Homo sapiens: one gene and its partners. The gene in region 1 interacts genetically with each later gene. Each region holds a gene or a part of one and is shown in the gene's direction. Other genes may lie near its edges.

Region 1 (3,500 bases):
ATATATTTTTGAAAAATCAGAGTTTAATTTTTAATTAAGTATATTTACTTCATTGTTTATTGCCAGTCATTGGTTTTCAGGTGAAGACACAAATTGTTATTATAATCCCTTGATTTGATACATTGGTATTCAATAGCACAACCGACTCATAGGATTACTTGAAAGCATACTTCTTCTTTTGAATTCTTATCCCCTTCTCCTTTAAAGCCCTTCAAATTGTTTTCCTAGATATCTCTTCTAAATTATGAAGATGGTGTCTTAGATCCAAGCTCCATTGTCCCTTTGATAGATGGGGGGACAGAAGGTTTTAAAGGAAATGCCCGGGTGATTCTGCCTGGAATGACTGCTTGTATCGAATGCACGCTGGAACTTTATCCACCACAGGTAATCAAAAAAGCACCTGCATTTCTTTTATAGTATCTTGGCATGGAATTAGGGATTAATTATTAAGTCTAGTTAATATTTAGGATTGTTAATTAGAAGTGGCCGTATTTTAAAAATTACACTAAGAAGAAAGATAAAATATGAAATTCTGCTCTATTTGAGGAAAGATATGAACCGAGTACATTGTTTTGATACTATTCTGCTTTCATAATTTATTTGTATTTTTTATTTGGGGAGTAGGTATCAAGTAGAATTACAAAGTTGTATATTGATGTCAAGCTGTAATCTATGTGGTTTTCACCTGTATTTATTTCAGGGAAATAAAGATACCAGGGATAAGAATGATCTTTCCAAGGATGGGGCTTTTTGGTTTACATATCCACTTTAAAGAACACTTGAAATTTTGAATAATAAATGTAAACAATTTTATGAGTATTCACTTGGGATTCACTTAACTCTGAACTTGCTTTTGTTTTGGTTTGCTTTATACTTAAATATTAGGTAAAAATAACAAGGTGTTCATATTTGAGAAAATCTGTTCAGTATTTTTCTTCTCATAGTCTAACAAAGCTTAAATTTTATACCTTGTAAATGTAGGGCAAACCTGTCTTTACAGGCAGTGCAGCCTAAGTGAAGTGACTCAGTTAATCTGTATTATAGTTTGAGAGGCATTTTTAATGGTATACAATATTTTGAGTTGAAACAAATTGTATGAAATTGTTAAGAACTAGATCATAACTGGAAGTTGCATTTTAAAATAATTCGTTTAAAATTCACTGAAAAGGACAAACTGTGGTTTTAGGTTAATTTTCCCATGTGCACCATTGCATCTATGCCCAGGCTACCAGAACACTGTATTGAGTATGTAAGGATGTTGCAGTGGCCTAAGGAGCAGCCTTTTGGAGGTAATAAACCTAATTTAATAATCTAGAATTACATAAAATACATATTTTTTCTATATTATTCCTTTGGATAATTTCATTAAAAACATTGTTTTGTGATTACGTATTCCTGTCTTCTCTCTCTCTCTCTCTCCCTTTTTTTTTTTAAACAGAAGGGGTTCCATTAGATGGAGATGATCCTGAACATATACAATGGATTTTCCAAAAATCCCTAGAGAGAGCATCACAATATAATATTAGGGGTGTTACGTATAGGCTCACTCAAGGTAAGTCAGCAAATTGTCATGAATTATGATGTTGGGATGACTTAGGGCTGGGATGCTTTCAGGAGAATAATCGATAAGTGAGTTTAGACAGTACCATCCACTTGAAGTTCAGTAAAGGTACCATGTAATTCATACTACTTATTAGCTAGGGGGAATTTAATAAAATTATTGAATCTTACTTACTTAGGCTATAAGTCATCCAAGTCAAACTGTCCATTTTATCTTCCACTGAATTCATCATCTCTTAGAGACAGTCTATTTCACATTTGGACAGGACTGTTAGACAAATATTCTATATATTGAACAGAAATTGTCTTCAGGTCAGCTGCGGTGGCTTATACCTGCAATCCTAGCACTTCGGGAGGCCGAGGCAGGCGGATCACCTGAGGTCAGGAGTTCGAGAGCAGTCTGACCAACATGGCAACACCCTGTCTCTACTAAAAATACAAAATTAGCTGGGTGTGGTGGCACATGCCTGTAATCCCAGCTACTCAGGAAGCTGAGGCAGGAGAATCACTTGAACCCAGGAGGCTGAGGTTGCAGTGAGCCTGAGATTGCGCCACTGCTTTCCAGCCTGGGCAACAAGAGCAAAACTTCGTCTCAAAATAGAAATCGTCTTCAGTTTGGTCTGACTGTTGTCCCAGTACTGTATACAGTCTAATTCCCTTTTAAGTAATAGCTTTTAACATATTGAGGACAGTGATCACATCCTTTGCAAATTTTTATCAGTGCCATAAACCTCCCTAGTTAGTTCCTTTAACCCTGTATTAGTTCATTTTGCTTTGCTATAAAGGAATATCTGAAACTGGGTAATTTATTCAGGAAAGAGGTTTATTTGGCTCATGGTTCTGCAGGCTGTGTGAGCATGGCAAAAGCATCTGCTTGGCTTCTGGTGAGACCTCAGGAAGCTTTTACTCGTGAAAGCTAAGGGGGATGGCAAGGCATGTCATATGACGAGAGGGAGCAAGAGAGAGAGGAGGGAATACCAGGCTTCTTTTAATAACCAGCTCTTGCGTGAACTTAATATCACAGGGAGGGCACCAAGCCATGCATGTGGGATCTGCCCTAACGGTCCAAACACCTCCCACTAGGCCTCACCTCCAACACTGGGGATCACATTTCAGTATGAGATTTGGAGGGGACAGATATCCAAACTATATCCAACCCTTTGATATGTTGTACAGCTTCAGGTTCTCATGTTGTTTTTCTGTAACCATATTCCAGCTATCCATATTGGTTAACTGGAATATAGTTAGAGAAAACAACTTTTCCTAATTGTTCAGGCCAACATGCAGCATTATGGGACTGGTCTTAACTTTAGATAATAGACTTCTGATAACTGATGCAGTCTTAAAGGAGAGCAGGTATTTATGTTGTTGTTTTTTTGTTTACATTGATGCTATACTTTGGATTCTTTGATGTTACTAGCCACTGAAAGCTGGATGTTTTGTCCACATATGCAATTGCTAAGCCACATCTGCCTATTATAAACTTGGCAGTTTGGGGAGTGTCTTTTTTTTTTTGTTTTTCTTAATATCCAAGTATAGGTCCTTACAAATGTATTCTTAAAATTCAACCTGTTTTTCTCTCTTTATATGTATTCTGCCAACTTACCTGGTGTTTCTAGCTTCATTTCACCTGTTTTGATAATTATATCCTTTATTTCTTTTTCAAATAATTGATGAAAATTTTTAATAAGACTGAACTCTCTGAGAACAGACATCTGAATCATACTTCTGGCCAGGCCCTTTTAGGTTTATCTCATTCTGTTCATCAGACCTTCTTGGTACTTTGTATTTCTTTATCTTGTTCACAAGGATGTCATGAAAAACCTTTCCAGATCCTCTACTGAAGCCTAGGTATGCTATCTTTTGCATTTTCCTGAGTTGCTAAGTTAGTCATAGTAGCCAAATGAGGCTACTCCAACATGATTTGTCTAGTAACCAGT
Region 2 (3,500 bases), on another chromosome or scaffold:
TTTTCTTTTGCCAATGGATGTGTACGTGGATTGGGAACACGCTAAAAACTCAAGTAGTATTCATATTGGCCTTAGCTCTTACTTCCTATCAGGCCTTCTTGTGACTCCACTGAACATCCCCTTCCCATCAGCTAGTGATGCCTGGAGAACTTATCTACCCCTTCTGTGGCTGTCTTATTTCCAGAATGTCCCCATTAAATTACTGGTAGTTTGCTGCTTGCCTCAACTGGGACTGCAACCTCTGGCTAGCAGAGCTGCAGCTTTTTTCTTTTCATTTAGTACCTATTTTGCTATTTTTATTGACAGTGCTGCTGAGCAATAGTTTTAGCTATCTGTTGGAAATCAGGCCAGCCCCTCTGGCTACACAGTTATTGGCTCTTATGGCCAGATTGCTCTGGTAAAACTTCTGTTGATGGAGTGTCTGGGGACATTGGGGAAGAGGAGGAGGGGATATGGAAGTACTTCCAGGCAAGAAGGCTTCAGATTCCCTCTGTTTCTAACTTGAAGTTTAGCAGATTATCATGAACTAAACACGTCTCAGATTTTATATTTGCCCTTGGTTGATTTCCAGGACCCAAAAATGGTTAGTTTTTGACAATTTTGTTCATTTTTATATTTAATTTCTGGGGAGAGGATTTGCTGACCTCTTTATTCTATCACAGCTGGAAGTCCACTTCTGTTGTTATTAATTTATAAAATTCTTCTAAAAGATTACATATCTTATAATTCCTATTTTAAGCTGATCAGCATATTATAGGCTTGATTCTTTTGAACCAAAAGCATTTTGCCAAAACAATATAATTTTTATTTTAAAATCCAATTTATTAATAAATTTAAACTTTTAATTTTTAAAGACCATCATTCATTTTAATATATTCTATTTAATTATATAAATATAAGGTCTCAGTATAGTAAAGGATAAAGAATTTTTTAAAGATGGCCAAACCTGCATTAAAGAAATGCTTAAGCTATTCTAAAAGCTCTTCAAAGGCATGAAAGTCTCAATTATTTTAAAAAGTGTTTTAAATGACATTGCCATGCATTTTATTCTATTAGAACATAACCTTAAATGCTAATATGACTGTTTTATGTTCTTTGAGGAAAAATGAATATTAAAATGTTGTAGATTACTGAAGTGTTTTTGAAGTACCTAAACTTTTATTTTAATTTAAATTCATTTAAATTATTTTTCATTAATTTGGTTTTAAACCTGAATACAAATATAGTGATAGTTCTAGTTGCCATATAGACCTAGACCTTTTACTAATTCAGACCTTTCTTCCTTTCACTTATAAACAGTTGTCAAATATTCCTAAACACTTAGATACTGGTCAGTGATGCTTTTAATATGCTACTTAATTTACAGGAACGTCCTATTTTTAGATTGAAATTTGGCTTTATTATAGGGTACCATAAGACTACTTTCTGAATGTCTGGCTGTTATTCTTTTCTGTTTAGATATTAATGGGTTAAATACTAATAGCCAACTAAGTGTCTGCTATGTGTCAGGTACTGTTCTATGTACTTCTGTGGTATTATCTCATTGAAGGGTCACAGTCAATCTCTGAGACAGATACTATCATTAGCCACAGTTACCAGATGAGGAAACAGAGACGTAAAATGGTTAAGTGACTTTCCCAATAGCTCACAGCTACCAAGTGGTAGAGCAGGACTTGATCTCAAACAGTCTTAACCATAGAGCTCATGCATGTGCTTACCCACTTGCTATGTGGAATGAAAAAAAGATGACTTATAGAAGTAAAGTCCATGTCTTTACAAAGCAGCATCAAATGAGCAGAGCTGCAGTGTGCCATGGTCCTAAGACTCCTCTAAGAAAATGGTCCCCTGAACTGTAAGTGCCTATCCACCTCTTAGATAAGAAAGAGATGCCAAAGGGAAAGTGAGTCTTGGAGAGAGTGGAGGCTGCGTGATTGAACTGATCCTCCCTATTAGGAGTGTTTCCGTCTAGTGGAAATTTGTAACTGTAGGTTTCATTTCATTAAAGTCAACATGTACTTTACATCAATAAGATTGGATTATACCTCTTTATTCCTTCCATTGGCAACTATGTAAGTCATCCCAAAAGAATTTAGACTACATTTATCTTTTTTAAATCCCAGCTTTCTAAACAGTCATTGTTTTAGTCCAGGATAATTCTAAATTTTTTTGCATTTTTCCTGCATATTTTCTATGCTCATTTCCCCCATAGGGTCATCTGCCCCCACATTCTGTTCCCAAATCTCTGCATGGTTGTTTTTTTCCTTGTCGTTCTGATCTTTGATTAAGTTTCACCTTATTTTAGTCCATTTAGGCTGTCATAACAAAAATACCATAGACTGGGTGGCTCAAGAACCAACACTTATTTCTCCCAGTTCTGAAGGCTACAGGATCCAGGATGAGGGCACTGGAAGATCCAGTGTCTGGTGAGGACCCGTTTCCTATTTCATAGATGCCATCTTCTCACTGTATCCCCACATGATAGGAAAAGAGTGAGAGTTACACCTCTTAGGGTGTAACCCTAAGAGGGATACACACATTCAGTCCATTGTATTACCTCTTCCTTCAGGCCTTCCCTTTCCAAGTCTAATGTCACCACAATCCCTCCAGAATCATGTTACCCTGTTGTGTTTCCTTTGTAGGGCTTATAATTATCTGGATTATCTTATTTATTCGTTCTGTGTGTTTATTGGCTGTCTCCTGCACTGAAATCTAAGTTCCATGGGATCAGGAACATTGTTTATCTAAGAGATGCAGTGGTCTCTATAACTATAGCTAGAAGTATTCTGGCAGACACATAAAAAAGATGATTGATTAATATATGTTGAATTGCTAAATATTAGTTTAAGGCAGGTAAGGGAAACCAGATTCAAGTTGGACAGGAGGACTTGGCATAGGCCCAACACATCAGGGCTTTGAGCCCAGGGCCCAGTTAGGGATGGGAATGAAGGTTGGGAAGAGAGCTGTAGAGAGGAAGCTGATGCCTTGCTGGAAGAATCAGGCGACTGGTCAGAGTCACCTGGAGATGGCACTCAGGGAGAAACAAATGCCAGGTGGTGCTAAAAATGCCAGATACATGCAATAACCTATCACTAGTGGATAACTCATCCCTCACCACCACCACCCCAAATCTCCATACCCAGTGTCACCAATACAAGAGGAATTGTCCCTTCCAGTTCTTGTGAGTGGATATGTGCATAAGCATACAGACATGAATGTTTGGAGCTGAGGGGTAGAGGCAGCAAGGACAGCCACATAATTCATCCCATCAACAGCTCTGAGTTCAGCTTCCCCTTGGGTTGGCTGAGAGAAGAAGCCAAGAGAAGAAACTAGGCATCCCCTAGTCTAAATCCAGCCTACAAGCCTGTTTTACTTGTCCCACTCCATGTTTAAAAATAAATTATGCCAACACTTAAATGTAGGAGGTTTAACATAAACTTCAGCTTTTCTAGGTTAGTTTCACAAATAGGGAGGTCTGGCATGCTGAACCTGCATTCCCACAT
Region 3 (3,500 bases), on another chromosome or scaffold:
CAGCACTTGATTTGAGAAGCCATATGCAGTAGTACAGGCTCATCATTTCTCCTCTCCATCTTCTCTAATCCCTACTAGATTTTGGCCTTTGCCCACCCTGCCTCTTGTGATTACGTTGTTTAGTGAAGCAGGGCATGGTGAGGCTAAGACAGTCCAGTTACCTCAGGGCCTTTCTTACAAATCTTATGGTCAGGCTCTGCTGAAGGTTTGGCTCTGAGCCCTTGCTTTTTCCTCCATCCTGTATTTGTTCATGGAGACAGATTAAACCAGATCTAATAGCAGTACCTAACCTAGTGGTATATAGCGGCATTTGCTTTGGAGCTGGGCTTGTTCCATTTCCCCACCTTTTCTGTACAGACTAAGGGAACTGGAGGAACCTGCAGATTCCAGTCTCAGCATTATTGGAGAAGCTCTTGAACCACTTTGAGCATCTCCCCACACCCTCCTCCATGTCCCCAGCTCCTGTGAAAATGTAGACTAGGAGTCAGCTGGTTTGTTCTTAGTCCCTGTACTACTGACAGTGATTTTTACTCTAACCTCCGTACAGCCACATACTATTAAAACAATCTGTTCCATAGAATTTCTAGCAATATAATTGGAGTTGTATATGATAATACAGAGCAACGGGATGAGGAAGACCTTCAAAGAAATCCCAGAATATCCCTGAAACCTACTCCAACACCACCCCTACCCCCAACCTGGTTTAACATCAAGGTGCAGAATGCCAGGCAGTGCAAAGGAAATGAAAGGTCTACCTTGTGGCTCTAGGACGCTCCCCAACCTGTCATCAGGAGCCGTGAGGAGCTCTCTGGGTTGAGGGGCTGAGGGGCTGGGACCAGAATATCTGGGAACTATGGGAGTTTGGTAGAGCTGGGGCAGATCAGTTGTCTGTGGTTCAGGGATGAACAGGAACAGCCACTGCTGCTCCAGGGAGTCAATTTAGGTTTCTGCTGGGCATGAATGGGGTTTCTCAGGCGGGTTGCTTCTCTCTGGGTTAAGTGGCAGCACAGAACACCAGCACAGCTCCCGAGGACACACCTGTGCCAATGCCAGTTGGGCCGGTTAGTGTCAGGGCTCCCTTCTGCCGCTTTACCCTTGTGTTGCCTTTGCTCCTGCAAACCAAACCAGAGGGTCCCTGTGGAGCCACAGAGGTGGGATGGGGAACACACACGGCACAGCTGTTATCTGGACCAGACATTACATGCTATTTGTAATAAAAGTGGGTTCAAGTGGGCACAAAAGTAGCTCCTTTTTAGGTTAAAGAGGTTATTTGCTTCTTTACAGAAAGAAGAAGAACGTTTGAGGGCTTCCATACGTAGGGAATCTCAGCAGCGCCGAATGAGAGAGAAACAGCACCAGCGGGGGCTGAGCGCCAGTTACCTGGAACCTGATCGATACGATGAGGAGGAGGAAGGCGAGGAGTCCATCAGCTTGGCTGCCATTAAAAACCGATATAAAGGGGGCATTCGAGGTGAGTCGTGTATGGAAATTACATTTCATCATTTCGGGATTCTGGACTTCATCTTGGCATTAGATGTAATCCGGCTGCCAAGTCACTGGACTTTTTTTTTTTTTTTTTGAGACGGAGTCTCGCTCTGTCACCCAGGCTGGAGTGCAGTGGTGTGATCTCGGCTCACTGCAACCTCTGCCTCCTGGGTTCAAGTGATTCTCCTGCCTCAGCCTCCCGAGTAGCTGGGATTACAGGTGTGCGCCACCACACCTGGCTAATTTTTGTATTTTTAGTAGAGACGGGGTTTCACCATGTTGGCCAGGCTGGTCTCAAACTCCTGACCTCAAGTGATCTGCCCGCCTTGGCCTCCCAAAGTACTGGGATTACAGGCATGAGCCACTGTGCCTAGCCCGGACATTTTATTTTTAAAGAACGAGTTGTCATGAGTGACCTAGTTCATTCAGGTGAGCTTGAAAGGTAGGAACTGCTGTTGTTCCTACTTTGGGTTTTATCCCTTGAGCTTTTGCTTTCTGACTTGAGAATTTGCCAGTTATACTGGAACTTTTGTCAACCTTTTTTATTACCTAATTGGGAATCAAGAAATTAAACTATTCAGAAATTATGTGATATTTTCTTTCATTCTTCTTCTACATTTCTCTTAGATTTACTTTTGCATATTTCCTCCTTTCACAAGTATCACTGATTTCTGATGGTTAACGTTTTTTCCACACATACTGAATTTCAGGCAAATGCTCAACACTTGACATGCATCCTGTTTGATCCTCATAACAACATTATGATCTAGTTGCTCTTATTTCCTTGTTTTTATTGAGGAAACTGAGACTTTGAGAGGTTGACTAATTTGCCCAAAGGCACGTAGTTGCTAACTGGTCAGTTCTTAAACCAAAGTCATCTGACTTCCGAGACATCTGTCCCAGCCGTGACTCTGCATCCACCTGGTTCTTACCCAGGGGTTCCCCCAAGCCAGTAGCAAGACGACATGGTGAAAAGCGAACTAAGAAGACCTGGCTGGCCTTCTGACCCTGCCCGCTCTCATCTGAGTCCTGCCACTTTTTAGTTGTATAACTTTTGAAGAGTTACATAGTTTCCCTTAACTTCTGTTACCTCATTGTGACAAAAACAACCTATTAATAATGGTAGTTAGAACATAAGGTTGTTTTGAAGATTACATAATATAATACATTTAAAGTACTTAGCCCAGAGCCTGGCATATAACAAGTAAATTTTTAAAACACCCAAATTTATTTTTCTCTGACTGTCCCATGAAACTCATTTCTCCTTTTCTTATAGTGACTGCATTTGGTCTGGTGACCTGTTACATATTACCTACCTATTATTTATTTGGGGACCACAGTACAGAGACCCTTTCTTTTTTGTCAATGCTGATTTCCCATAGAAAAAGATTCAATTGTGTGGAAATAAACCACACAAAAATTAAATAAAAATTTTAAAAATCCAAGGATGCTTTAAGAGAGAGAGGTGTGTAACATTCAGGTCACCAGAGATTAAAAATCTAGCACATGAGTCTAGTAGTGCTCAGTTCCATACAGTAATCAGATAGGCAAGGTGTGGGGACAAAGGGAAGGCTTTGGGTTTTGACGGGAGGGGCTTGGTCTAAAGTCCTCGGCTCTTATTCCACCCAGAGGTTCACCTGGGCTTGGGCAGTGGAGCAGATGGGCGCCCCTCTACATCTCTCTTTGAAAGGTCTGCCTGGCAACAAACGGTCTTTACAGGACCAGGAAACCACTTTCTTGCTTTACCTTCAAACTCATTTTGGAATTAACTGTTACTGGTGGAAGAATGTCTCAGGCTTTAATAGTTGACTTCGTAAGAGTAGGGTATCTTGCCTCTTTAGACACCTTGCACACAAACCTTTTTCATCTTTAAAAGTGGTCAGGTTTTTGTATTTTGAGAGGGTAAGTCTGCTTCATTTCCGCATATCTAAAATTTATACTTATCTTTAAATCAAAAACTTTAAAATTATTTGGTTCCCCTGGGAGGAAATATACAGAGGGAACTAAAGATATTT
Region 4 (3,500 bases), on another chromosome or scaffold:
ACAGGCAGTCCCATGATGCCATTAAGGTGTTACAGGTGCTGTTAAGGATGAGTTCATGTTTTTTAGGGTTTAGGCTAAGGTGCTCTAATATAGACCCCAGAATACATTCTGGCTTAAATTCGGTGGTGGATTTTTTTTCTCTCTCTCATAACAGTCTAGGACGAGATTCCTCACATGTGCTTGCACCCCATACACCCATTGGCCAGGAGGGTCACGTGACCACACCCAGCAGTTCAGGTTGCCTGTATTACAAAGGATGAGAGGCGGTGCTGGGTGATGACTGGAGAGATCATCAGGGTGACCACTGGGGAAGGAGTTTGGACTTGACTGTGGGCAAGCGGAAGAGCCAGAATAGAGTTGGTGTTAGAAGGCACCCTGAGGCTTATGTGAAGGAAGGATTGAAGTGAGGTGGCCAGCAGCAGTGTAGGCAGACCAAACCGGAGGCTGTGGGAGTCTGGAAGGCTGAGGCTAGACTAAGTGGTATGTAGAGATGAGGCTGCATTGATACGGAAGGATTCAAGATTGTTCAGGAGGCAGAAGGGACCACGTGGTGGTTTTTGCCTTGGTGGTGAAAAACTGGGCAGATGGTGCAATTGTGTGCTGGTGTGTGACATCTTTCCCAAAAGATGGGAAGTGTGTGAGGCTTCCCAAAAGCCTCAGTCTTTCTTCCCCATCCCCTTCTTTCTTTTTTATACACAGGCGCCCACACAGTCTGCTAGAAAGTTGGAGGAAATACTGTAACAGAAAGTACTGCATCACATTTCAGTCCTCCATGCCCCTAAAAGTTACGTTATTCAATTCTGTTACAGTGGAGTAATCTCTTAGCCCCAGAATTACAGTGAATTTTTTAATACATTGAAAAGAGTGCGCTATTTTTAATATTTTTTTGTTCTTTTTGTTTTTCCCTATTAGTGGGTGATTAACTGTACTGGTTTTAATCAGTTAATTACGTCAGTTGCTAAAAGTCTGAATCTTCATTAGTGTTCATGACAAATTTTATGACTTAAGTAATTTATCTGAGTTATGCTTCACATGCACATAGTTTTTATAATTTTATAGATATTAATACAATTTATATTTGTTTTTGATGCTTTAATGGGCATAATTTGGCAGGTGAGAGCCCCTCAAGTTGTCTGCTATGTCATTTCACACCTCTCCAGCGTTTTGGGGATCATTTTGCCTCTGGCATGAGGGAAGGATCCAGGCTCAGCCCAGTTTGAAGGCAAGCCCATACGTGCTGCAAGTGCGCTAGGACTGGAGCATTTTTTGCTCCAGTTTCACCTTCAGCAAGCGCTATATGGTAATCGTGTGCTGGCAGCCAGCCTGTCTCAGGGCAGCTTCTCTTAGAAGAAAAGAACCAGCATGGTTTTCTTGGTGTGAGGAATTCATCTGACTTATATTTGAGATTTCCATTTTAGATTTATAAACTTTATATTTTACATTTTGACTCTCACCAGAATTTATAAACTTGTCTAAATGAAAAAGGCTACCTTTTTACTGGTGCACCAAAAATAAGTCTTTTTAAATGGGTGAGGTATAGTCTCTGAGCCTTCTCTTCTCATGCACATGTTCAGCAGCTTGAGGCTCACACAGCAAGGGCTGGAGCTGGGCAAGGGCCAGTCCTATCCTCGGAATGTGCAGGGTTTCAACAGCCCAAGCCTGCCAGGCTTGTTCACTTGGTTATTGATTCATTTCAGTGCTCCTTTATTTATTTATTTTTTTAGACTAAAATAGTTTTAATAAGGAAATAGTTTTCTTCCTTCCCTTCTCCCATGTTGTGGATTGATACCCAGAAAGGAACCCTTGTTAGCAAGCAGCGGAGCTAGGATTAGAAGAATCATGTCTGCCTGTTTTTTCCAGGGTGCTGTATTTTCCTACTGTGATTCTTAAAGTCTTTTCAAAATGGATAAACATTTCTTGTGATACTATTGTAAGGTTTAAAAATCTGCTTAAGTTAGTGATCCATGCTGCTTGCTTTTTGTGTGCCGTTAATGTGTTCCCAGAACGGGGAGCTGGGCTTGGACAGGAGTAGTCCCTCGGGAGATGTCCATAAAAGTTGATGCAGCTGAGCTCTTTCCATCCTGTCCTGGGTTGCTGTGTGCATTGCATTCTCTCAGAATCCTTCTTTCCTCTCCTCAGTGCCCTGAGGTACGGCTGAACATCATCTCTAACCTGGACTGTGTGAACGAGGTGATTGGCATCCGGCAGCTGTCCCAGTCCCTGCTCCCTGCCATTGTGGAGCTGGCTGAGGACGCCAAGTGGCGGGTGCGGCTGGCCATCATTGAGTACATGCCCCTCCTGGCTGGACAGCTGGTGAGTGAGGAGGCCTGGGGGCCAGGCAGTGCTGCCTCAGGGGAGGTGCAGTATGTCCAGGGCTGTGATGGGGAAACGGGGCTTTGAAGGCTTAGTGGAGGCTGTGACAACTGCCTGGGGAGTCGAAGGAAGGGACCCAGGAAATAGGGCCTTAAAAGATGCATTGGATTCAATAAGAGAGAGGAGGGAAAGGAGCACCTCAGACAAAGTTGAGAAGTGTCCGGTCTTTCTAGGGTGGGTGTAGGTTCCATGGGATGTGGCTAGCAGCTCCCCCTGTTTGCTCTCCTGGAACGCTTACCTTGGAACCCTTGGTTTCTCCTGTAGGGAGTGGAGTTCTTTGATGAGAAACTTAACTCCTTGTGCATGGCCTGGCTTGTGGATCATGGTGAGTACCTTCACAGGAGCAGCAAGAGGAGATGGGAGCTCCAGAAAGGCAGGATGGATTGGCTGGGGCTGTGGCGGGCAGTGGAGGAGGCTAGAGTCACTCCCCACGCCGCTGGATGCTCGTATGGACCAGCTCGCATGCTTGTTAGAGTCCTAGAGAAGTGTTGAGTGGGAGGAGGACGAAACAGATCACCCAGGGGTTGCCTGGTATAGTGGAGAGCCAGAGGGCCACTGAGCAGCCAGACCAGGGTTTTGAATCCTGCCCTTGGGGCTGTCAGATCTAAAACAAGTCACCTGCTGTCTTTGAATGAGCCCCACACTCATTCTTTGAAACTTCTTATTCTGGTGCCTTGGGGCCATTATGAGAATGGCTCATTGTTTACACTAAGAGAGGTAAAAAATAAAAGGTAATATTTATCTCTGTGAAGCCCTGTTTGAAGTAATAAGTGCCACATAATTTAGGCAAATCACTTCTTAGAGCCTTAGTTTGCCCATCTGTAAAATGAAGCCAGTAGTGGAACCTACCTCTTGGAGTGGTTGAAAAGATACTGTATAAAAAAAAACAGTTACTAGATATAGCACATAGTAAGTCCTTTTTTCTCTCTTTGGCTCACATGCAGCCTGGCACCTAGGGGCTGCTTTGTAAGCCATGGTGAGTGTGACCTACATTTTGCCCACATCAGTTCTTCACCTCCAAATCCCTGTCTCTCTCACCCTCACCCTTCTGCAGTATATGCCATCCGCGAGGCAGCCACCAGCAACCTGAAGAAGCTAGTGGAAAAGTTTGGGAAGGAGTGGGCCCA
Region 5 (3,500 bases), on another chromosome or scaffold:
TGAAGATATGACCTTGTTTTATACATCGAGAAAAGAATTCCACCTTTCCATCCTACCACCCTCTGACATCTAAATAAACTCTCTACAGCCTTCCAAACTGGGTTTACATCAGAACAACAAGCCACCAGCATCCCAATAAACTTCCTATTTGATTTAGACTGTCTTATATTAGCTCCTTACAACGTTTACTAAAATGATTCATCAAAAAGATGTCCTTATGTCCAAAGGATTGTTATTTTATGTATGTCAAAGTCTCAGCATAAACTGATGTCACATATAAAGGATTTAACTGAAGACAGTTTCATAAAGTGACAGTTTAGAGAGGCCTTAAAGGAACAAGAAAAGAGGGTGGAGCATCTAGCGCAAGCAACAGTAGGGAAAAAAGAACCTGAAGCAAGGTGAGAAGAAAAACCATGACCATTCCTAGGCCTGAGGAGGTGGCAGTGTTAGTTTGATTATGAACTCTAGTTATGGGAGGGTGGCCATTAGACTGGAGTTGTGGTCATAAAAAGGAATGCAGCTAGTGACAAAATTGAAGCCCAGCAGAGAAGGAGTAAGGAAAATAAATATACCTCCTTTCCTCCCACCCTCTGATGTCTTGCTCAGCCTTCCCATTGGCCATCCCCAAATGGCAAGATCCAACCTTCCAGAGAACAAAGGGCAAGACAATCAATAACAGAATAGCTAGCACAACTTAACCCCGAAATGTATTATGTGCAAGGCACTGTGCCAAGGGCTTTGCATGTATTATTTCATTTTAATCTAAAAAATTAAGTTTACTAATTGATCACAAGCAGTCACAGATTTCTTTGTTCTTTTTTCACTCCCTCAGCTTGTTGATTAGCCTTGAAAAAAAGAAAAGAAAAAATTAAAACTTTATAACTATTATCAATATTTTAGAGATGAGGAAATCAAAATATAGTATTAAGAAGTTAATTTCATTTGTCCAAAGTTGAAGAACTAATGACAAATCTACTCAATTCATATCTCTGACCTCAAATTAAATGCTCTAAAATAATATGCTATATTGGCTGCCTAAAGATAAGTTCATTCTCTCTTGCTCACTCCTCTAAATGTGAAATCCAAACATAGTTGTCTAAAATACTTGGATAAAGACCTAATTAATGATACAAGTCAATCTTTTATTTCCATGATTTTTAGGTGTACAGCATTAAGTGTAACTCAAGTAAGACTACTATTTCTCGTTATTAAGAATATAAATATAGAATTAGCCCTAATTAAACTATATGTCTCTCTTCCCTAGAAACATTTTGGTTGGCCTAGAAGCAAGGGTCTTCTTTTCACAGGCAAGATTTCCTATTCAAAATGAAATCCAGTGAGGAGATGGGAGATGGCTGAATATGGGGAGGAAGTCAGCCACTTATTCAAAACAAAGAATGACTCCCAATGGCAGACAATGTATTGTCAGGAATTGCTGAAGATGGTGAAAATTGTCTTACTCATTGTGATGTTTGTAAAGGCAGCAATGAATTCACGGGATTTTTGTTTGTTTAGTAAACAGGCAATGAGAGTAACCATGAGACACATATATATGCTATACTAGTTTAACTATTTCTCTTCCCTCCTGTCATAACACTTACCCAGCTATTTTGAAGCATGAGCTCTTGGGCCACAGCTTATCACTGATGTTCTGACTTCAGTAGATAGATGCTCCTCTAACATGTTCCTCCACTTCCAACCCAATAAACTTCCCACTAGATTTAGAACTTGCTGAATTTCCACATCTTAACATATTTTAGTAGAATAAAGTAGCTCATGTTTAAAATATATTTAGAAAAGTTGGGGACTAAAATGCTATTCTTTACCTACACTTCTCTTCTGTTGTGTGAAATACAAAATAGTGTACTCAAATTCATGTTAAGAAACTGAGATGAAAGATATTTTGAAACTGTTGCCACAGTGCTAAAGTCAGAATAGATTGCCTATTCAGAGCAGTCTGTGACTGGAGAATTGTATTCGCCCTCAAAGCAAGTACAGTAGAGTATCAAGAGATGCAAATGACTGCATATATTTCTATCTTCAAGATTATTGAGCTTCTTTCAGCTCCTTTATTATGCCAGCTACTCTAAAGTCTCCTTGGGGACTTTGCATAAGTAGTTACTCCCACTGCTACTGATCTCAATCCCTGAATAAACGTCATTTCCAAGAGATACCCTGAAGTAGATTGGACCCTACCTTAGGACATGTGTATCCCAGCACCTTTGCTTCTATTATATAATGCACCACGGTATTATAATTAACTATCTAATTGCCTGTCTTTCCAGCTTGCTGTATGCTCTGTGAGGGTAGGATCTTTAACCATAACACCTAGAAATAATAGGCACTTTTTAATTGAATGAATCGCAAAAGAATTGACTATTGACAAACTCAGAAAATACTTAAGGGATCAGATTGTCCCTTTATTATATACCTCTGCCTTATTTTATTATACCTCTGCCTGAAATATTTCTGTCTATCCAAATTTATAAATAATGGAATGGAAGACACCATCAGTTGAAAGATGCACCATTATTTTATGTACCACTAAAAAAGACAAGCCACTCCCAATCCAATTATAATTGCTAGATTGTTAGATAGTTCCTAGTTTCAGAGATGTCAAAATTGGGAAAATGTGCGTCTGAAAATTACAATCAATAATATACAGTGTATGGTACTTTTTACCATGGTACTTTTCTATTTGTTTGGACACTTAAAAATTGTGTCATAAGATTTTGAAGAGGCTAGTATGTGAACCCCATCTAGATACAGAGATATAACATTGTTCCTCTCAGTTCTCTTCAAGTGCCAAGTTTATATCTGATTTAGGGGATAATTGCTCCTCTGGCACCAACAGCCTCACCAGATCCCAAAAACAGAGCTCCCTCCAAATGCTCTATCTTTAGAAGAGAGCTTCAGGAGAAAGGTGACAATAAAGTAATCATATAATGTTCCAGTTGCACAGGATTAATGACTCTAGCTTTGGCAAACTCTTAACTTTTTGTCATGTTGGTGGTAAGCTCCAGGGTTGTGTATATAGGAAGAAGACTAATTTTAATCAAAACTTTCCTATGATTTAAAAGGAAGATAAAAAAGTCAACTAAGTTTTAAAAGGAAATTAAAATGCATATGCTGGTTGGTGTTAGGAATTCACTTTATGTGTTAAAAAAAATCAATTTTATCCAAACAGGAGATCCCTATTAACAAGATAAGTAAGAGATCTGAAATGAGAAATCATTGTAATTCAAATATGCAAAGGAGTGGATACACATACTCTTTTTGTATGAATTATATGAGATCTCCTAAAATAAATGCAAATTCTTAAATTTAAATATAGCACCTAAGTCACTTTAAAACATCAATAGTTAAGATGGTTTATATATTTTGTTACAAATCATATATCCTTACTACAAATTAAATGTACTTTCAAAATTATTTTATTAATTAGACTTTTATTTTACCAAATACTAAAGTCTAGAAATACATGGGTACTGGCCAATCCT
Region 6 (3,500 bases), on another chromosome or scaffold:
CTGCCTCAGTTTTCTTATCTATAAAATGAGTATTAACAGTACCTTTCTCCTAAGGTGGTTGTGAGAATTACATGATAGGGTAATACATGTGAAATAATTAGATTATTGCCTGTCATACAATGTTTAGTAAATGTAATGTGCTGTTATTAACTGGTCATTAGTTTCTTTTTTTCTTTCATAATTGGTTTATTGGTCGTGTTGATGATCAGTACACAGACATTTCAATTTGTACACAATTCTTAACATATATACTGAAAATCTAAAAAGCCATGTGTTGTAATTTTTAAAAAGTTATTTCAGTGACTTTCCAGCTTAAAATTGGGAAGCAAATTTTCCATAAGAGGCTATCAAGTACCAGTATCTTCACATGTTAGTAAGCTGTTACATAGATCTCACCAATTCACAGTATAATACCATATAGACTACATACTCAAATTTTCAATCTTCCACAGCACATTAACAAAGTTCATTAGAAAAGCAGGACTACCACGACCAAAGATGTTACAGTGCACAGAATTATGACAGGGAGAGCCATGATCAAAGAGTGTTTTTCTTTAGGAAACAATTCTACTAAAAAATAATGTGGGAATGAAAGTAATTTAAAATGTTCAAGACATTAAATGCAGGACTGCAACTCCATATTGCCATTTAGTATGCTTTGTATTACAGGATATAAAAACTAACCCCCCAACTATGGAATGTTAAGCTGACACTCAGGACAGTCAAACCCTCCCATAATTCAGTATCTCACACAAACCTGTGTTTACAAAATAGTTGGTAACAGTATTCCTCTGGGTTGTACAAGATGGGAAATAGGGACCACTGATAAGATACAGTGTGTTATGATATCAGTCAAACTTGGCTTCTTTATCTCTGGCGTCATCAGAGGCTGGACTCTTCTCAGTTTTAGTTTCTTCGTTTTGTGCAGGTAAATTTCTTTAGTTTCCTGGTTAGCCACTTTGGCCTGTTTTCCCTTTGCTCCCTTTTTCCCTTTGTTTGCACTTTTTTGTCTGAAGATTTATCCTTTCCTGCTGCCTTTTTTTAGCTTCGTTTCCACTTTGGCGGGAGCAGGTTTAGCTGACAACCGCATTGATTCTCTCTTAGGCTGTTTCTTCACCATCCGTGTGGCTGAGCTGACCTGTGGGCTCAGGCTGCACACAGAAGTAGCTGCTCACCCTGTGTGTGCCTGGCCCACCCATTACTTCGTTTCTAACAATAATATATTTGTTTTAAATGAAACACTAATAACGTACAAATAAATTGTCATTTTCTTGTTAGAATTATTTTTCCTCTGAGAACTTTACATTACAATTTTGAATGTGTTGCCTTTTGGGTCTTCAGGCCATGGGCTCATATTAAATATTAATGCTATTATTATTAATATGTGCCAGGCACTATAAAACACTTTACATATATTAACGCCATGTTGTAGGAATTATTAATGATTATGATTATTGCAGACTTTAATTTCTTGTCCACCTGTGCACGGTGTTACCTCTTATCTTTATGGGAATATTAAAGGAGAGAGTAGTAGAAGACCTGGTTATTCCATTAGAGGTTGCTTAGTGAATCCTTCTGGTTGAGGAAAACTAGATCATGCTGGAGACTATACCAACCAGATTGTTGTTGGATATGTGTGGGTACGTGTTCCCGTTGTTGCATCCTCTGACTATGGAGATGATCTGTTGAGAAAGGCAAAATGAGAATTTATCAGAAGGCTCTGCTTTCAGGTGTCCCGATAATTGAGACCTTTATCTCTGTGTCTTATTGATAGTTTTGTCATTTATGTGTCTATTAACAGGATCACTTTCTCAATAATAGCCTCAGGTTGAGGGGGTATTCTTTGATTTGGCTGAAGGAACTCCTGGATGCCAGACCATGGGGAAGCTTTGATTTAAGAGCATAACTGCTGTAGATGGACGTTTTTGACATGTAATCAAACTCCTGGAGTTTCAGATCTGCGTTTAGATTATGTGAGCTTTATTATTTATGTAAGGGTAAAGGAAAGGATTTGTAAGACATTTATTTATTCCTCTTATTTAATTTGTGGTTTTGCAAACCTAGTACAGTTTCTTTTGTTTTTTCTTAGAAATAAAGGAAATAATAAACTAGGATGGTTGTTAAGCTCCCTTCTGTGTGTGTATGTTTTAGGTGGTATTAAAGATAATCAAACATTATCAAGAAGAAGGACAAGGAACTGAAGTTGTTCAAGGAGTGCTTTTGGGTCTGGTTGTAGAAGATCGGCTTGAAATTACCAACTGCTTTCCTTTCCCTCAGCACACAGAGGATGATGCTGACTTTGATGAAGGTAAGGGTGTTCATCACAAGTGTGTCTTTGCAGTGCATACAAATGGATATTGACACAGGTCTCACCATAACTTTTGATAATGTGTGAATTGGGAATCTGTCAGGCTAGCCTACTTCACTTGATGTCTGATACTTTGGGAAAATTATATAAATTCTGGGAAATGAGGGTTTATACTATAGACATCATTAGTTTGGCCTTTACTTATTTGGAATTTGTGATTCTGATTTGTCATAGATTGGATAGGAACTGTGCTGATGTTGACTTTGTCAACATGAAATCAGCTTGCTAAATAAAGTTTTGAGGGACAAAGATCATCCTTATGTGTCTGTTATCCATTCCCTTCTATCCTCTTTTGAATAAGTCAGTGTTTAGAAAGAGATGGAGTTCAATTTTCTGCTTCAGAAAGAAGATACTCCTCAAGCATTTCAGAAATTTTATTTTTGTACTATAGGTGTAGTTCCTTTGTTAGCAAAGGCTGAGAGTAGTTAAAAGCTCACATCAAAGGCTAAAATCAGCATCTAGAAGATTTTTTAAAAATCAAGTTGAAAATAACTTCTCACTTGTTTGAAATCCCTGGTTTCATTTTCTGTGTAACTTTTTATTGTAAAAAGCACATAAAAATTTTAAGTATACATTACAGTAGTGTTAAGTGTATGCATATTGTGCAGTAGGTTTCTAGAACTATTTCATCTTGCAAAGCTCAAACTCTGTATCCATCGAACAATCCCTTTTTCCACCTCTTTCATCCCCGCAACCACCATTCTACTTTGTGTTTCCAAGAGTCTGACTACAGATACCTCATGTTAGTGGAATCATGTGGCATTTATTATTTTGTGAGTGACTTATGTTATTTAGCATAATGTCCTAAAAGTTCATCCATGTTGTAGCAATGACAGGATTTTCTTCTTTTTTCTTAAGGCTGAATAATAATTCATCATCTGTATATACCACATTTTCCTTATCCAGCCATCTGGCGATGGAAGTTTAGGTTGCTCCCACCTGTTGGCTATTGTGAATAATGCTGCAGTGAACATGGGTGTGCAAATATCTCTTCAAAATCCTGTTTCCATTTTCTTTTGGATATGTACCCAGAAGTGGTATTACATGGTAATTCTATTTTTAATTTTTTGAGGAACTTCTGTATGTTTTTTTTAATAGCAGCTGCACCATTTTACATTTCCAACCTTGCACA
Region 7 (3,500 bases), on another chromosome or scaffold:
ATTGTTGGGAGCTCAGCATAATCTCTACAGACAGACACCCCTCACTCCTTAGCTAGACAGAGCAGGACCACTGGAGTCAGGTCTGGTGACAGTAAAATCCCACAAAAACAAAATGCTTCTAGACATGGCCAACACCCCTTTATTTCAAACAAAGTTGCAACGTGGCAGAGCATCAGAAGCATCCCTTTGGGTTTTCGTAGGAATCTGGTCTGTGTGCATGAGGCCCTTGTTTGGGCCTCCCCCACACCACATGTCTGTGTCTGGCCCCGCACCGGACCAGTACCCATAATGCTGCACACCACCTCTACTCTGAGAGTCTGAACTCACTGCAGACCTAACTGAATGTTGCAGCATTTACTTTTTTATTATTACTACACTGTTGAAAGTGATGCACATGCATCCTTCAAGAAGTCAAATAGTGCTGCAAGGTTAACATCAAAACACCACCATACCCCTCCTACTCTCCTTCACCCTTGCAGTAACCTCTGTGAATTCTTTCAGCAGTTTTTTCTGTTCACATTTATGTTTCCACATAATTCGCCTGTGCTGCTCTTTATTGAATTCCCAGTTTTTGACATTATCTACTGGCATGACTATAGAAACTAGAATTTAGCTCACGCACTGCCCCTACCTCTACCCCCACCAAGCTTAGGCATACTTTTCCTTCTCCCATTCTCCCAGTACAGTTCATCACAGTTTTGGTTAAATTCAGAGTTTACGTCATGACGTGTAAATACGGCTGACAGTTAAGCCACAGAGTGTACAGTGATTATTTTCTTTCTTCTATAACTTTAAGTTTGCCAGAGTTAGGGATTGCCTCATTGTTTTGTTCACTTGGTTTTCTAAATATATGTTCCTACTTCAGCCCCACGTTCTCAGCGGTCTCATAGTGGTGTGTTCAGACACATCAGAGGTTCTGTTTCATCTTTGTCTTGGAGACATGCCCCTGGGTCTCGTTTCTGTTAGTCTAAGGTTAGACCTCCAGGACTGACCTCCTAATTCTTTCCTCTTAGTGTCTCTGGCTTTATCCTTTTGTTCTACTTTCTCAGAAGTTTTATTTTTCACCTTTTCAACCCTTCTATCAAAATTTTCATTTCTGCTTCGTCTTTCTAACTTCAGGAGCCTTTTCTTGCTGTCCGAATGCCCTGCTTTCCACAGCGTGCTCATCTTGTTTCCTAGGAGGCCGTATCTGCTCTCAACTGTCTGATGATTCTGTTTGTTTTCTTTCTTCTCCCTTCATTATCTGACTCCTCCTCTTTTCCTGTCTTTGTTTTGGTTTTGTTCTCATGTTAAAGAGGCTTTTCACATGTAATCTGATGATGCTTGGCTGTCTGTTGAAGGAATGAGAGACTCTGAAAGCTGTTTGTGCATGGAAGGTCCTTGTTGTCCACTGGGCTGCATTGTGGGTGATAAGGCAGACTTTTTCAGCGGGACCCCCAACTGTCAGAATCTGTAAGCCATTTTGGGGGAAGCAGGTGGTGTTCCTGAAGAGGAATCCTCTACTCTCCTCCTGCCTGACGGGTCTAGGCCTGGCCGGCTGCCTTTGGGGATCTGGAAGGGGAAGGAGCTGGGGTTGCTCATCACTTAGTGTGATGTTCACTTGTCCCCCCGTTTTCAGAATCGCAGCTCAGCCCTGTCCTCTACCGTGCAAACCACTGCAGGAAGATGGCCCTTTCTTCTGCCTGCATGGGGACGGAGATGGATTTGGGGATCTTTCCAGTGCTTCCGCCCACTGGTTTCAGCTTTCCCCCTCTCCTTGGTTAACGCTCACCTGTGACCTTTCTACCCTCAAATTTTTGACTTTTTTTACTGGTCTGCTGACCTCACTTCTCCCATTCTTTTTCCCCTTATGGGTTTATGCTTTTTTTTTTAATTCCTCTGCAGTCATGGTAGTGGGGTTTTAGGAGCTTTTGATTAAAACACGTTTCTGCTGCCACGTCAAGGGTTTATTTTTGAGTGGCTTCCTGGGCTGTGGAAAATGTGTCATCATTGTTAGTACTTACTCAGCATCCTGGCCTATCATGGTCATAGCCAAAGAGCAGACTTACTGGGAAATTCAACTCCCTGTCTTCCCCCATCTAGTTCACTGGTGGTGAGAATCCTTCTCTCTTCCCAGCCATGACTGCCCCATCTCCCCTCGCCAGAGCCTGTCCAGCCGGTCAACTTTAAAAATGCAGTGCTAGGCAGGCCTCCTAGGCTGAAAGCATGTTTTGTTCCAGCAGAACAAAGATACTTATGAGCCTTTCTGCAAGGTCCCTGTGATCACCTCATCCAAGGAAGAACAAAAACTTATAGCGACTTCAAATAAGGTATGTTGGAGGCACCCTTGTGGAATTTCTTTTGCTACCAGAAATGATGGAGGTTCTTCTGAATAACTTTTGAAATAAAAACATGTATAATTGCCTGAGTGAGGCCTGATAATGGGTTCACAGTGGGAAGCTACAGGTCATCTTTTGTGCCCCTGCTATTGGGTCATGTGGTCCCCCTCTCCAGCCAGCAAGCTATGCTTGTCTGCCTCTTCTGATGCAGGGCAGGGCCCCAGCCCTATGGGAAGCTAGTAGTTCATTGCATCTGCCTGCCAAGTAACTCTCTTCTTCTTCTTTTAAAACAACCCACAGCCAGCCGTGAAGTTGCTCTACAACAGAAGTAACAACAAATACTCATATACCAGGTAAGGCGTCAGCCGGGAAAGACAGCTCCATTTACTAGGAAAACCTCCACTCACACCAGCCAGGCCCAGCTCTTCTTCGTACCTTCAGATGAGGATGACCCCTCTGTACCTCTCTGCCTGGATAGATAAGTAGACAGATGGATACAGGGGTATAACTCTGAGCTATAATTCACACATATCATAAAAGTCATCTTTCTAGAGTGTACAGTTATTATTATATTCACAATATGTGGTTTTTATATATTCACAAGTTGTGAGGCCATAACGACTATCTAATTTTAGAACTTTTTCACTGCCTGAAAAGAAACCCTCTATTCGTTAGCAGTCACTCCCCATTTTCCCTCAACCATTGCTTCCCCAACCCCACAGCCCTAGGTAACCACTAATCTGTTTTCTGTCTTGATGAATTTGCCTGTTCTGGACATTTTTATGTGAATGGAATTGCATAATATATGGCCTTTTGTGACCAGATTCCTTCATTCAGCATAATGAGATTACCTAAGAGGTTTTCAAGGTTTATCCATGTTGTAGCATGAATCAATACTTCATTCCTTTTTATGGCAGAATAATATTCCACAGTGTAGACCACATTTTCTTTACCCATTCATCAGTTGATGGACATTTGGGTTGTTTGCACTTTTTGGCTATTGTGTGTAATGCTGTTATGAACATTCATGCAAAGTCTCTATGTGGACTTACGTTTTCATTTCTCTGGGAACAGAATTGCTGGGTCATGTGGTAATTCTATGTTTAATCATTCGAGGACCTGCCAAACTGTTTTCTAAAGTGGCTGCACCATTTTACATTCCCACCAGCAATATATGCAGGT

Evidence for each region.
Region 2: of UBA3 (region 1) and ATG10, changing one enhances a phenotype caused by changing the other (phenotypic enhancement), as found in Homo sapiens cells (one large-scale study listed by BioGRID).
Region 3: changes in UBA3 (region 1) and LEO1 together harm fitness more than expected from each alone (negative genetic interaction), as found in Homo sapiens cells (one large-scale study listed by BioGRID).
Region 4: changes in UBA3 (region 1) and PPP2R1A together harm fitness more than expected from each alone (negative genetic interaction), as found in Homo sapiens cells (one large-scale study listed by BioGRID).
Region 5: changes in UBA3 (region 1) and PELO together harm fitness more than expected from each alone (negative genetic interaction), as found in Homo sapiens cells (one large-scale study listed by BioGRID).
Region 6: changes in UBA3 (region 1) and EIF3H together harm fitness less than expected from each alone (positive genetic interaction), as found in Homo sapiens cells (one large-scale study listed by BioGRID).
Region 7: changes in UBA3 (region 1) and KCTD10 together harm fitness more than expected from each alone (negative genetic interaction), as found in Homo sapiens cells (one large-scale study listed by BioGRID).

Annotation. Positions count from the first base shown.
Region 1 is NC_000003.12:69,059,866-69,063,365, reverse strand, and holds part of UBA3 (NEDD8-activating enzyme E1 catalytic subunit), read left to right. Parts: intron 1-228; coding exon 229-384; intron 385-1,186; coding exon 1,187-1,289; intron 1,290-1,438; coding exon 1,439-1,552; intron 1,553-3,500. UniProt on the Homo sapiens protein: Catalytic subunit of the dimeric UBA3-NAE1 E1 enzyme. E1 activates NEDD8 by first adenylating its C-terminal glycine residue with ATP, thereafter linking this residue to the side chain of the catalytic cysteine, yielding a NEDD8-UBA3 thioester and free AMP.
Region 2 is NC_000005.10:82,248,023-82,251,522, forward strand, and holds part of ATG10 (ubiquitin-like-conjugating enzyme ATG10), read left to right. Parts: intron 1-3,500. UniProt on the Homo sapiens protein: E2-like enzyme involved in autophagy. Acts as an E2-like enzyme that catalyzes the conjugation of ATG12 to ATG5. ATG12 conjugation to ATG5 is required for autophagy. Likely serves as an ATG5-recognition molecule. Not involved in ATG12 conjugation to ATG3.
Region 3 is NC_000015.10:51,947,779-51,951,278, reverse strand, and holds part of LEO1 (RNA polymerase-associated protein LEO1), read left to right. Parts: intron 1-1,284; coding exon 1,285-1,471; intron 1,472-3,500. UniProt on the Homo sapiens protein: Component of the PAF1 complex (PAF1C) which has multiple functions during transcription by RNA polymerase II and is implicated in regulation of development and maintenance of embryonic stem cell pluripotency.
Region 4 is NC_000019.10:52,217,552-52,221,051, forward strand, and holds part of PPP2R1A (serine/threonine-protein phosphatase 2A 65 kDa regulatory subunit A alpha isoform), read left to right. Parts: intron 1-2,139; coding exon 2,140-2,313; intron 2,314-2,637; coding exon 2,638-2,698; intron 2,699-3,427; coding exon 3,428-3,500. UniProt on the Homo sapiens protein: The PR65 subunit of protein phosphatase 2A serves as a scaffolding molecule to coordinate the assembly of the catalytic subunit and a variable regulatory B subunit.
Region 5 is NC_000005.10:52,790,916-52,794,415, forward strand, and holds part of PELO (protein pelota homolog), read left to right. Parts: intron 1-3,500. UniProt on the Homo sapiens protein: Component of the Pelota-HBS1L complex, a complex that recognizes stalled ribosomes and triggers the No-Go Decay (NGD) pathway.
Region 6 is NC_000008.11:116,724,824-116,728,323, reverse strand, and holds part of EIF3H (eukaryotic translation initiation factor 3 subunit H), read left to right. Parts: intron 1-2,151; coding exon 2,152-2,308; intron 2,309-3,500.
Region 7 is NC_000012.12:109,456,801-109,460,300, reverse strand, and holds part of KCTD10 (BTB/POZ domain-containing adapter for CUL3-mediated RhoA degradation protein 3), read left to right. Parts: intron 1-2,219; coding exon of another isoform or gene 2,220-2,222; coding exon 2,223-2,309; intron 2,310-2,618; coding exon 2,619-2,671; intron 2,672-3,500. UniProt on the Homo sapiens protein: Substrate-specific adapter of a BCR (BTB-CUL3-RBX1) E3 ubiquitin-protein ligase complex. The BCR(BACURD3) E3 ubiquitin ligase complex mediates the ubiquitination of target proteins, leading to their degradation by the proteasome.